Linked DNA regions of Homo sapiens. The protein of the gene in region 3 interacts with the protein of the main gene of each other region in a biochemical or structural test. Each region holds a gene or a part of one and is shown on either strand. Other genes may lie near its edges.

Region 1 (3,500 bases), on a different chromosome or scaffold from region 3:
TGGATCACTTGAGGTCAGGAGTTGGAGACCAGCCTGGCCAACATGGTGAAACTGTTTCTACTAAAAATACAAAAATTATCCAGGCATGGTGGTGGGCACCTGTAATCCCAGCTACTAGGGAGGCTGAGGCAAGAGAATTGCTTGAACGCAGGAGTTAGAGGGTATAGTGAGATGAGATCAGGCCAACTGCACTCCAGCCCGGGCGACAGAGCGAGACTCCGTCTCAAAAAAAAACAAAAAACAAAAAACAAATTGGGGGGAGAAAAAAAGCTACAGAATATACAGATTACAATTTCATTTAGGTTAAAAGAAAAAAATAGGTAAGTATAATAGATATGCACATTGATGTATATATTTTCATGTATGTATGCATGTATGTAGCATGTAATGAAACAGAAAAGAAACTGGAAGGACATCCAAACTGCAGAATGTAGTTTAATGGTTTAAGATGCAGGATCAGACAAAGGGAGAGCAAGCCTGGAATTAGAAACCAGAGAGAGATGGGACCACTGAACTACAGGCACACAAAGCATCAAGAACTCCAAGAAACAGAGACTGTCGGCACAAATTCCATCGTTTGAAATTACAGTACACAGTTCAAACATATATAGTTCTTAGAGATGATAATCATGAGAACTACAAGAATTTAGGTCAGATCAAAGAAACTAACTTTAAAATATCTTTGGCTGAGTAAAACAAAAAAATGTGAAGCACACCCAGACTACACCAAAATGTCTATGATGGTTACTTTTTAGTAATCAGATTATAAATAATAGTTTGGGGGTGAGGAGGGATTTCGGTATCTCTCCAATGTTTCATAAAATTATTGGCAACAAAAAATATTACACTTAAAAATTTTAATGCACATTTTATCATATCTCCACATTTTCTGTTAATGAATTGCTAGTAACTTCTACAGAACATCAAATACAGAATTCAAGAGCTGATTTTCTCCTTGCTTTCACTTTTTTTCTCAAAATTCCTCAAATAGATGGATACTTACAGGAAACTTAAAACCAGCCTATTCACAAAAAACTACATATTTTGTAGACATTTTATTTTATACTATAAAAAAAAATCTTATTTATTTTTTCTTGAGACAGAGTCTCGCTCTGTCGCCCAGGCTGGAGTGCAGTGGTGCAATCTCAGCTCACTGCAACCTCCACCTCCCAGGTTCAAGCAATTCTCCCGTCTCAGCCTCCCAAGTAGCTGGGATTACTGGCGCCCGGCACTACACCCGGCTGAAAATATCTTAAACATTTTAAAAGTTAACAAAATTTATGATAGCCCCCCTCCCCTCACAAACTCAAAAGAATACAGTCTGCAAAAATTAACTAACGTCTGTATAGACAAGATATCCGAAGTTGTTCTAATAAAGCTAAATCAGGGCCCTTGACAAGTTTTTAGAAGTAAAGCTACCTTACCCAACAAGCCTGAGTTCTGGCCAAATTCAAAAGGGCAAAATTTAATGTGAAATACAAAGGAAGGAAACCAGGAAGAAGTTTTTAACAGGGAGAGGATTACTTCATTTTGTCAAATAAATTATTGAAGTAATCTTTCCAAGGTAGAGTCTTTGCAGAGAAGCTAGTATACACTTATATTTACTGTATCAACCATCACTAGACCAAGGTGGTCGATGTGACACTAATAAATAACTATACCAAGTACGCTGAAATATTTTCTACAAAATTCAAGACTGGCATTAAACTCCTTAAGAAAATATTTCTCACTGGCAAGATCTGTTTTATAAATATAATTAGTTCTCCAAAGGTTTTTCTCTTTCTAGTTTATTCCATGTGCCCGGACTCCCTGTTCAAAACAAAAACGAATAAGCAAAAAAAACCAAAAACAAAACAAAACAAAAAAAACAAGTCAGTTCAAACATGACTGGGCAACCACAAACCTAATGGAAGGTTTCTGCCAGCTTTATTCTGGTCATATCTTGTCTGTAACATTAAACCTAAAGTTCTGGAAGACTTTTTTTTTTTTTTTTTTTGAGACAGAGTCTTGTTCTGTTGCCCAGGCTGGGTGCAGTGGCACCATCTCGGCTCACTGCAACCTACACCTCCCGGGTTAAGTGATTCTCCTGCCTCAGCCTCCGAGTAGCTGGAATTACAGGGGGATGACACCATGCCCAGCTAATTTTTTTATTTTTAGTAGAGACAAGGACAGGGCTTCACCATGTTGGCCAGGCTAGTCTTGAACTCCTGACCTCAAGTGATCCACCAGCCTCGGCCTCCCCAAAGTGCTGGGATTACAGGCGTGAGCCGCCACGCTGAGCCTCCTGAAGATTTAAGGAAAAAAAAAATCGTTCTAGAAATACTGGTCAGAAAGTATTTGAGATGGTCAGGGAAAAGAATAAGACTTAAAAAACAAAAGAAGGGCCAGGTGTGGCAGCTCACACCTGTAATCCCAACAATCTGGGAGGCCGAGGCGGCAGGATTGCTAAAGCCTTTGAGTTTGAGACCAGCCTGGACAACATAGTGAGATCTCGTCTCTAATAAAAATAAAAATTATAATAAAATAAAATAAGAAGTACTGGGACACATGGCTATTCAGCTGGTAACTTTGTCATGGATAAGCAAATAATACTCCTTAATCACACAAAAAAACATAATGTTGAGTGAAAGAAGCCAAACAGAAATGAAAGAGTACAGGCCGGGCGCAGTGGCTCACGCCTGTAATCCTAGCACTTTGGGAGGCCAAGGCAGGCAGATCACCTGAGGTTGGGAGTTCAAGACCAGCCTGACCAACATGGAGAAACCCCATCTCTACTAAAAACACAAAAAATTAGCCAAGTGTGGTGGTGCATGCCTGTAATCCCAGCTACTCGAGAGGCTGAGGCAGGAGAATCGCTTGAACCCGGGAGGTGGAGGTTGCCGTGAGCCAAGACTGTGCCATTGCACTCCAGCCTGGGCAACAAGAGTGAAACTTTGTCACAAAACAACAACAACAACAACAAAAGAATGAAAGAGTACAAACTCTACTGTTCCATTCATATAAGGCACAAAATTAGGCAAAATAAATCTATGGTGTAAAAAGTCAAGAGGTGGTTTCCTGTGAAGGGGGCGGCTCCTTGTTTCTTCGATCTGGGAGGTGGTTACAATAGCGTTCCTTTTGTGAAAATGTCAAGCTGTACACATGATTTGAGCACTTTTTCCATATGTATTTAGGCTAAATGTCAACAAAATAGTTTACATTTAGAAAATAAAAGTCCTAATATTGCTCTAGGTATTCTCCTAGAATCTCCTTGAACAACAGCCAGATGCTAATATCAGCTAACACTTCACAGCATCTCTCCTCTCTTTCCCTCTGCACAGTTCTTCAACCTGTCTCTCTCTACTACCCATTTGCTCCAGCAACACTCCTCAGGTCCTAGAGCAGTCCAAATTCATCCCTACTTCATGGGGCCTTTATCTGGCTGCATCTTCCATCTAAGATGTACTCCTTCCCCCTTCAAAGGGCGAGCTCCTTATCCTTGGACACCAGGTCTCCCTTCC
Region 2 (3,500 bases), on a different chromosome or scaffold from region 3:
CGTTCTGCCACCCAGTGCAGTGGTGCGATCTTGACTCACTGCAACCTCCACCTCCTGAGTTCAAGTGATTCTTCTGCATCAACTGGGATCATAAACATGTACCACCACATCCAGCTAATTTTCGTACTTTTAGTAGAGACGGGGTTTCACTGTGTTAGGCTTGTCTCGAATGCCTAAGCTCAAGTGATGTGCCTGCCTCAGCCTCCCAAAGTGCTGGGATTACAGGCATGAGCCACCGTGCTGGGCCGATACTAATTTTTTAAGTTCAACTTTCTTCTATGGAAGCTGTGTAGAATTTAAATCTCAATTCTTAAAAGGAATGAGGAACTTAAATAACTTCATTTTAGGTAAAAACTAAAAGAAATTTGCAACAAAAAGCCAAAAAAAAAAAATCTCAAACTGCCACAAAATTTCAGCTTCTGTATTTCCAAGACATTCTGTTATTGTACCTGATCATGTATGTCAACCATGACTGCATTCTGCTGGGGTGGATGAGCAGCAGGATGTAGCAGACGGGGAGATACATTCGGAGGGTGGAAGGCTCGAGGCTCCTCTATTGCTTGCTGCTGTGCGTAAGGGAGATGGTGATAGTTTTCATCTTGACTAATGGAATTATGTCGAGACAGACGATCCCTTCTTCCTCTCTGGCGCCTGACAGGAGGACTGTGATAAATATCAAAAAGAAAGTCATTATGCTTATTGTGATCCATCAGGATTCTGTATTGTCTTTCTTTGATATCTATCAATAGTATATGCTAAGGTAAGCTTCATTATTAAATAACTGCTAAAATTCCCCATCAGCTCTAAAAACTTACAAATTTAAATACAAGGTATATGTTTTATACAATAATGAAAGCAAACAGTATTGGTATTCATCTCTGAAAGTATTTAGAAATCAACAGCTACAATTTTTTCTTGAATCATATGAAATTGCCCTTTTTATAAGTGAAAAATAGTCTAATAGCAACAATTTCATATAATTTAACCTACCATTTTCTCCCTTTTTAAATATTATAATAAAACGAACTTTAATCTGTAGATACCTTGTCAGTGTTCCTCATATACCTAATAGGCACCTTTTTGTCTATTTAGCTAACACATACATAAGACATAGTTCCTATGTGGCCAAAATGACACTTTTAAAAAATGAGAAAACATGAAATAACCAAAGAACATATAATTTGCTGACAACCGCAAATAGAAACTGGGTAAACACGCGATGAATATGATTGAGAATATGATAGTATCAACATAAATATTCCAAGAATATATAAAATTTTTAACTTTTAATTTTTATGGGTGCACACAAGGTATATATACTTACATAGAATTTTAAATTAGAATTTGCTTGTTGGGCCAGGTGCAGTGGCTCATGCCTGTAATCCTAGCACTTTGGGAAGCTGAGGCAGGTGGATCCCTTGAGCCCAGGAGTTCGAGACCAGACTGGGAAACATGGTGAAACCCTGTTTCTACCCCAAAATACAAAAAATTAGCCGGGCGTGGTGGTGTGCACCTATAGTCCCAGCTACCTGGGAGGCTGAAGTGGGAGAATCACCTAAAGCCTGGAAGGCCGAGGCTGTAGTGAGCTGAGATCACGCCACTGCACTCCAGCCTGGGCGACAGAGTGAGACCATGTCTTAAAAAAAAAAGAGAGGGAGAGAATTTGCTTATTGAAGCAACCCACATTTACTCTCCATGTACTAGTCATCGACATAGTTTAATAAAAATTTTATTGTGACTAAACTTTCATTTTGTTCTTCTCTGAAACTGCTTTTTACAATGGCTCAGCACAAAAGCAACTTGAAAAAGTACTCTGCCTCATTAAAACTGTACTCTACATTGGGCAAAGGAGGTCAAACATCTCCCTTCTAGGAAGAACTCCAAGTGTCATTTTAGCAACTTTCTTTATGGTCACTTTTTCCTTAATCTTCCCACTCTGTTCCTCTAAATCTGTTTCTTCTTACTCCTAATTCTCCAATCTTAAGAGAACAAGGGACATTCCTTTATGAGATCAACTCGCAAAGGTGCTCTTGATATTGTCCCTCCAGCTTCTTGCTCCATTAATTGTTTCTTCTAACTTTATTTTTAATACAATCCTTTTTGCATTTTTGCTTCAAACTCTACTTACTGTATTATATTGAATTCAAGACGCCCTCCACCTTAGGACTAAAAGCTTTTTTTTTTTTTTTTTTGAGACGGTGTTTCACTCTTGTCACCCAGGCTGGAGTGCAATGGCACGATCTCTCGGCTCACTGCGACCTCTGCCTCCCAGGTTCAAACGATTCTCCTGCCTCAACCTCCCAAGTAGCTGGGATTACAGATGTCCACCACCAAGCCCAGTTAATTTTTTTTTTGTATTTTTAGTAAAAACAGAGTTTCACCATGTTGGCCAAGCTGGTCTCGAACTCCTGACCTCAGGTGATCTGCCTGCCTCAGCCTCCCAGAGTACTGGGATTATAGGTGGGAGCCACTGCACCTGGCCTACATTATTTCTTTTAAATTTTTCTCGTATTGCCTTCTTCTGGAAATATTAGACATTTAGAACTTATGACTCTGTGTTCATACTTAAATTTACTTTTCCACATTTTTTATTTTGCCCCGTTACACTACATTCTGGGAAATTTCCTCCACTTGATCTTCCAGAATGAACTCACTTTTTCTTTTCTTTTTTTTTTTTTTGAGACAGAGTCTCGCCCTGTCTGCCAGGCTGGAGTGCAGTGGCCCGATCTCGGCTCACTACAACCTCTGCCTCCTGGGTTCAAGCGATTCTCCTGCCTCAGCCTCCCGAGTAGCTGGGACTACAGGCGTCTGCCACCTTGCCTGGCTGATTTTTGTATTTTTAGTAGAAACAGGGTTTCACCATATTGGCCAGGCTGGTCTTGAACTCCCGACCTTGTGATCCGCCCACCTCAGCCTCCCAAAGTGCTGGGATTACAGGCGTGAGCCACCGCGCCCAGCTGAATGAACTCACTTTTTCTATTTATTAAGTTTTACCAGCTAACATTTCTAGTTGATTTTCATGAGTACAATATCCCTCATCCCTCTCCCTCTTACATCTCACATGTACTCTAAAATTCGATCTTGCTTGTTCTATTGTTTCTTGAAGTTTATTGTTAATTGAGTTTAATGGCCCTGTTTATTCACAGTTCTTTGTTTTATTGCATTTATTAATAGTATCCCTCTTTCACTTCATTCGTTTTTTTCAAATACCTAGCTTTGTGCTCACCTCTGTAACTGAAATCCTGCTAGATTATTGTTAAAAACTGCATCTGCTTGGCACAGCCTGTTTCTGGGAGAAAATCTGGCAATATGCTTATAGGTAACCTATATTAAGTAGTAAACAAGAACAGAATACAGAGTAAGACACACTGCTGAAAAAAACACTAGGAGAGCCAGTTTTCAGGGTGGTAAATACTCTCTACTACTCTTTTGTCTTGCTATGAACGAGGACCATGATGCTTTTCAAAGAACTCAAAGCTAATTACTATTATCATCATCTG
Region 3 (3,500 bases):
GCTTTTCTTTCTTTCCAGGAAAGGAGAGTACTGGCTATCTGGACCTTGTGAAAAGATTTTTAGTACACTACTTAGCTTCTTGATTTCATGAAGAATTCATTTTGGTTTCTAATATACTGATATGGTTTGGATCTGTGTCCCCACACAAATCTCATGTTCAACTGTAATCCCCAACGTTGGAGGTGGGGCCTGGTGGGAGGCGACTGGATTATGGGGGTGTATCCTTCATGAATGGTTTAGCACGACCCCTTTGGTGCTGTTCTTGTGATAGAGTTCTCATGAGATCTGGCTGTTTAACAGTGTGTGGCACCTCCCCCATCTCTCTCTTGGTCCTGCTACTGCCATGTGAGACAGGTGGCTCCCCCTTTGCCTTCTGCCATGAGTAAAAGCTCCCGAGGACTCCGCAGAAGCAGATGCTGCCATGCTTTCTGTATAGCCCACAGAACTGTGAGCCAATTAAACCTCCTTTTTTTTTGAGACGGAGTTTCACTCTTGTTGCCCAGGCTGGAGTGCAATGGCGCGATCCCAGCTTCCTGCAACCTCCGCCTCCCGGGTTCAAGCGATTCTCCCGCCTCAGCCTCCCAAGTAGCTGGGATTACAGGCATGCACCACCAAGCCAGGCTAATTTTTGTATTTTTGGTAGAGATGGGGTTTCTCCATGTTGGTCAGGCTGGTCTCAAACTCCCGACCTCAGTGATCTGCGCATCTCGGCCTCCCAAAGTGCTGGGATTACAAGAGTGAGCCACCGCACCTGGCAAAACCCTTTTCTTTATAAATTATCCAGTCTCAGGTATTTCTTTATAGCAGTGCAAGAATGGACTGATACATATACTATACCTTCTTCTGTAAAGATAGTAACTCTTATTTCTATAACCTGTATAGTCTCTTCACTGAACTTTTACCTATATATATTCTTCATCAGTATTACTTTTTTTTTTTTTTTGAGACAGACTCTTGCTCTGTTGCCCAGGCTGGAGCACAGTGGTGTGATGTTGGCTCACTGCAACCTCTCCCTCCCAGGTTCAAGTGATTCTTGTGCCTCAGCCTCCCGAGTAGTTGGGACTATAGACACACACCACCCTGCCCTGCTAATTTTTGTATTATTGGTAGAAATCAGGTTTCACTATGTTGGCCAGGCTGTTCTTAAACTCCTGACCTCAAGTGATCCACCTTCCTTGGCCTCTCAAAGTGGATTACAGTCATGAGCCACTGCGCCTGGCCAGTATTACTTTTTCACTAGTGTTACAGCAACAGTTACTTTCACTTCTAAAAACATATAATCAAATGGCTTTATGGCACACTTATCTGCTTCCCTTCAGTTTTTTTCAGTGTTTTTGTTTTTGTTTTTTAAATATTTAGGTCCCCATCACGGACCTTCAAAGTAGAGTGAATACTGGGTCAAAATTTCTGTCCTTGAAGACAGACTATATGTTAAAGGAATAATATCATATACAGGATTAAGGCATTTCATAGAACTACTTGCCCATACATTCAATTTACAAAAAGGGACTCATTAAAACCTTAAATCTGAGACAGTTAATACAATCAAATTCAACAAAATGGCACTGCAACTATTTTAAAGGATAGCTATCCAGATAGAGAGAACCTAACAAATCAGACTTGTAACAGTCCTTATCATTTGGAATAGCTGAAAAAAAATCAACGCTAGGCAAGGGGAAGAACAAAAAGAGGTATGGCAATAATTTCAGCTATCTTGTGTCTCCAACACCTCACCCCACCAAACACACACCTCTCACACAATTCTACTTATCTTGGTCCCATTACTAGATTTACATCTCTATTGCTATTTGGTGAAGGAAGTGCAACCAATGGGACCCTCACCAGGCCAGGCACAGGTCCACAAACACTTTCTCAAGTAGCTCTTGAATTGTAAGGGGGCCTACCAAAAGAAAAGGGGACACTTCTCTAAAAAACTATTTCATTAAAGTTGTAATAACTTTAAAAAAATGTGGTTCTCTGGCATCCTGTTTTTATTTCTGCCTGGGACTCCAAAAATTTTAAATTAATGTCTCAGAGTTTTGTTTGCTTTAAAAAATTAATTTGTGGCCAGGAGCAGTGGCTCACACCTGTAATCCCAGCACTTTGGGAGGCTGAGGCGGGCGGATCACCTGAGGTTGGGAGTTCGAGACCAGCCTGACCAACATGGAGAAACTCCGTCTCTACTAAAAATACAAAATTATCTGGGCGTGGTGGTACATGCCCTATAATCCCAGCTGCTCAGAAGGCTGAGGCAGGAGAATGGCTTGAACCCGGGAGGTGGAGGTTGTGGTGAGCCGAGATTGCGCCACTGCACTCCAGCCTGGGCAACAAAAGTGAAACTCCTTCTCAAAAAAAAACAAATAATAATAATAATAATTTTTTTTTAAGATTGAGTCTTGACATCCAAGTGATAACATGACAAATACCCAACACTTTTGACAACTGTGCCTTTATCCCCAGTTTTTGGAGTACTTACAAGGAACCAGTTAACTGTCTGTTTTTGCTTCTTTAATCTTCGTAACAACAATGAAATATGTATTATTGTTCCTTTTCTACAGATGAAAAAACTGAGGAATACAGGGGCCAATGTGTCTCTAGCCTCATTTAATAAGAGGTGGATCTGAGATCTGAACACAGGCAATTGGATCTAGAATCTATGTTCTTTACCATGAAACTATGTTGCTTCCTGTCTAAATACATGCATTAAACAAATGGTAAATTATAAGCAGATAATTTCTACTTAATGGTTCAAATGGTAAATTATAAGCAGATAATTTCTACTAAAAATACAAAAATTAGCCAGGCGTGGTGGTGGGTGCCTGTAATCCCAGCTACTTGGGAGGCTGAGGCAGGAGAATTGCTTGAACCCGGGAGGCGGAGGTTGCAGTCAGTCAAGATCACACCATTGCACTCCAGCCTGGGCAACAAGAGCGAAACTCCCTCTCAAAAAAAAAAAAAAAAAAAAAAATCACACACCACATTTCACCACACAAATACCAAAACTAACATTGCTTGTCTATTTCTGGACACTCAACATACTTTTATATGTAACTCTTGTTACAGTGTATATGCCTTTTTTCTTTTTTCTGCTTTTCTCAAGCACAGTATTTTCCTATTTTCACAATATTTGTAAAGATCAATACTTTTTTTTTTTTGGAGACAAAGTCTCCCTCTGTCACCCAGGCTAGAGTGCAATGGTACCATCTTGACTCACTGCAACCTCCGTCTCCCGGGTTCAAGTGATTCTCCCGCCTCAGCCTCCTGAGTAGTTGGGACTACAGGCACGCACCATCACACCTGGCTAATTTTTTGTATTTTTAGTAAAGATGGGGTTTTGCCATGTTGGCCAAGCTGGTCTCGAACTCCTGGTCTCAAGTCATCTGCCCATCTCAGCCTCATAAAGTTCTGGGATTACAGGCATGAACCACTATGCCTGGCCAGGGTCAATACTCTTTTAAATGCATGTGCTGGAACCGATCTATTTTTTCCTCTACTGTAAG
Region 4 (3,500 bases), on a different chromosome or scaffold from region 3:
TTTCACATATATTATGTATAATTCCCCCAACAATTCTATGAGGTATATGCTGTTATTATAAGACCTATTGTATGGATGAGGAAACTAAAGCACAGGGATGTTAAGTGACTTTCCCAAGGTCACACAGAAACTAAATGGCAGAGCCAAGTGGCAGTGTCATTCAAAACCAGGGCACAAAATGTCCTAAGTTCACCTTGTACTTTCCCTGCACCAGGTCTGGAAACAGACATTTCACCAACGATTCCTAGTTCACGTTATTGGGCAATGATATTTAGAAGCCAAGCTGTATACTGGCTGAGTGTGCTCATTACCACTAGGGTGTCTCTGCCCTTTTGATGGATAGAATTAGGGCATACTCTATGATTTTTTTCCACTTTATTTTGTTCTCTACAAAAGATATCTGGTCAGAGTACAGTGTGTTTAAGTTCTCAAAATCTTTAAGGAGTCACGTTGTTAATTTGTAGTATATTTTGCTTTTTTGTGTTTATTTTTTGAATTTGTGAAACATTTACATGGTTCCAAATTACATATAAAAGCATTCTTTTGGGAGACCAAGGTGGGATCACTTGAGCCCAGGAGTTTGCGACCAGCCTTAGCAACAGAGGGAGGCCCCATCTCTGCAAAATATAAATATAAAAAACATTAGCCGGGCATGATGTCATGTGCCTGTAATCCCAGCTACTCAGAAGGCTGAGGTGGGAGGATCGCTTGAGCGCAGGAGTTTGGGGCTGCAGTGAGCTACTACTGGGCCACTGCACTCCAGCCAGGATGACAGAGTGAGACTCTGTCTCTTTAAAAAAAAAAAAAAAAGTATACTTAGAATCATGCTTCCATTCTTATCCTCTTCAGTCAGTTCTCCCTGACCCCCCTAGACGGCTTGATAGTCTATTTTAACATGTGGGGGAACTAGACCCTCCTTATTGCTCTCCTATTTCAGGGTTAGTGAAGATTGTTAAAACTGGAAGCCCTCTGTGTAAAAGAGTACAGTGAAGCAAATATGCATACACACTGCCCATGGGAATGTACACTTACAGGACTGCTTTGGAAGTTAGGTAGATTTTACTATAAACCATAAAAATCTTTGCAATTTTTGATTTGACAGTGCTGAAGTAACTCATACAAAGATACATACAAAAATATTCATCACAATTTTTTTTTTTTTTTGAGACAGAGTCTTGCTCTGTTGCCCAGGCTGGAGTGCAGTGGCATGATCATGGCTCCCTGCAACCTCGACCTCCCAGGTTCAAGCAATTCTAATGCCTCAGCCTCCCAAGTAGCTGGGATTACAGGCTTGTGCCACCATGCTCAGCTAATTTTTGTATTTTTAGTAGAGACAGGATTTTGCCATGTTACCCAGGCTGGTCTCGAACTCCTGGGCTCAAGTGATCCGCCTGCCCTGGCCACCCAAAATGCTGGGATTTCGTGCATGAGCCACCACGCCCGGCCCTCATTATAATGTTTTTTTTGCGTGGTGAAAATTTTAAAACAGTTTCAGTGTCCATCTTTAGCCATTGAAACGGTATATTGGTATATTCAGAGAATATTCATTGACATTGTTAAGGTTCTAACAATACAATAGGTGAAAGAAAGCATTGTACAAAAAGTAATGTGTTTTGTACATAGGGAAAAGACAAGAAAATTCATAAAAATGTTAAGGCAGCATTTTTCATTTTCTTTGTACTTTTTATGCCGCCTTTATTATGGGCTGGCAAGTGGTTGTGTTGTGTTATTTTTTAATTTGAAGAATTTTTTTTACAAAGTCTAATCTTTTCTATTGTGTAAGAATCTGGAAGGTAGAAGTAGTAAAAATGATAGCCCTTGCCATTCTTTTTCATTGTGCATTAAAAATGTAAGCATTTTTTTCTTTTTTTTGAGAGAAGGTCTTGCTCTGTCACCCAGGCTGGAGTGCAGTGGCATGATGATGGCTCACTGTAGCCTTGACCTCCTGGGCTCAAGCAATCCTCCCACCTTAGCCTCCTGAGTAGGTGGGACTACAGGTGTGCACCACCATTCCCAGCTAATTTTTGTATTTTTTTTTTTGGTAGAGATGGGGTTTCCCCATGTTACCGAGGCTCATCTCAAACTCTTGAGCTCAAGCTGTCTACCCACCTCAGCCTCCAAAAGTGCTGGGGTTACAGATATGAGCCACTGCGCCTGGCCTATTTCTTAATATATAAGTTACTAAACTAATATCGCTATCCTTTGAATAGCTAACATTCCATAATTGATTTAGGGTTATAGTCCAAAGTTTACAGATTAGTTTCTGGGTGTCTTACCTCCATTCTTCAGATGGCTGCTTTTTTTTTTTTTTTTTTTTTTTCTGTTTTCTTGAGGACAAGTATTAGAAAGCCAAGTGCAGAATATATCTTCCATAGAAGCCGGCTTTTGTTATGGTAACTTCCCTCAAATGGGGTAGGTGTGATGGTACTCACCTTCATAAACATTTTTCTTTTTTAGCATCTCAAAGACAAATTTTGGAATTTTATTTTCTACAAGTTCATTTTCATCTTTGGTGTGCTGAATGTCCAGACAGTGGAAGAGGTGGTCATGTGGTGCCTCTGGTTTGCCGGACTTGTCTTTCTGCACCTGATGGTTCAGCTCTGCAAGGATCGATTTGAATATGTGAGTTTTTAGCCAAGCTTTTTGCTTGCTTAGTCACCACGTTTGCCAACTTTGAATTGTGTAATGTGAATGAGCCACAGCAGGCATGGTCAGGGTAGCTCTTCTGGGAAGACTTCTAGATCAGGCCCCCATTGCCTGTTTCTTGAAGAACTTTCTACAGCAGCCAAGAGATGCAGAATCGTTGTCTCCTGGGGAGCTTTCTTCCCAACCCCATAGTGTTTACTTACTGCTAACATGGGGTCACTTCACCTATGCAGACTGTTTTGTTCACAGTGCAAGGAAACCTTGATACATAAACAATAAAATCTGGTCTTTTCTAGATATTTTCTGTTCTAGTCTCCTTCTGTCTCTCCCAGCTTACTCTGGTTCGTGGAGCTCTTCTTTCTGAGTAGTTTATACTATTTCCACCCCGGGCCAGGACTGAATTAGCTCCCTCAGCTTCCTTGTTTGCGAAGTGAATCATTTTATGTCTGGTACAAGATCTGTCACTTGGTTTCAGATCATAGCTGTATGAGTGAACCTTCAACCCATTAGTGACCTGAAGTAGTCTCATGAGTCCCAGATAAATGTGCATCTACAGTGCTGCCCCTCAGTTAAACCCGCTCCAGGGCCTTGTTTTTCCCTGTCTTTACCCAGTCCACATGGACCTTGCACCTTGGTTTGAGTTAATCTCACTCTCACAGCCTTTATTTCTTTCACATTCAACCCTCATTTGAAGTCACAAACAGGAGCTTCTAACCTCCCAAACTGTTTTTTTTAATCTCCGCCTGTGACCTCAGGAGTTGCAGCTCTAGGCCTTCTTTTCAGACTGTTGCCTCTCCTTGCATAATGCTGACATCACGTTGTAGTAGTGGTAAACCTGTGCCTGGATTGCATTT

Evidence for each region. Proteins that work in one complex are often made in the same cells at the same time.
Region 1: the proteins of UBE2D2 (region 3) and SIAH1 form a complex in vitro, tested with the Homo sapiens proteins (3 studies listed by BioGRID).
Region 2: the proteins of UBE2D2 (region 3) and RNF38 form a complex in vitro, tested with the Homo sapiens proteins (3 studies listed by BioGRID).
Region 4: the proteins of UBE2D2 (region 3) and AMFR form a complex in vitro, tested with the Homo sapiens proteins (3 studies listed by BioGRID).

The regions. Positions count from the first base shown.
Region 1 is NC_000016.10:48,375,414-48,378,913, forward strand, and holds part of SIAH1 (E3 ubiquitin-protein ligase SIAH1), read right to left. Parts: intron 1-3,500. UniProt on the Homo sapiens protein: E3 ubiquitin-protein ligase that mediates ubiquitination and subsequent proteasomal degradation of target proteins.
Region 2 is NC_000009.12:36,369,270-36,372,769, forward strand, and holds part of RNF38 (E3 ubiquitin-protein ligase RNF38), read right to left. Parts: intron 664-3,500; coding exon 450-663; intron 1-449. UniProt on the Homo sapiens protein: Acts as an E3 ubiquitin-protein ligase able to ubiquitinate p53/TP53 which promotes its relocalization to discrete foci associated with PML nuclear bodies. Exhibits preference for UBE2D2 as a E2 enzyme.
Region 3 is NC_000005.10:139,616,839-139,620,338, reverse strand, and holds part of UBE2D2 (ubiquitin-conjugating enzyme E2 D2), read right to left. Parts: intron 1-3,500.
Region 4 is NC_000016.10:56,408,546-56,412,045, reverse strand, and holds part of AMFR (E3 ubiquitin-protein ligase AMFR), read left to right. Parts: intron 1-2,457; coding exon 2,458-2,622; intron 2,623-3,500. UniProt on the Homo sapiens protein: E3 ubiquitin-protein ligase that mediates the polyubiquitination of lysine and cysteine residues on target proteins, such as CD3D, CYP3A4, CFTR, INSIG1, SOAT2/ACAT2 and APOB for proteasomal degradation.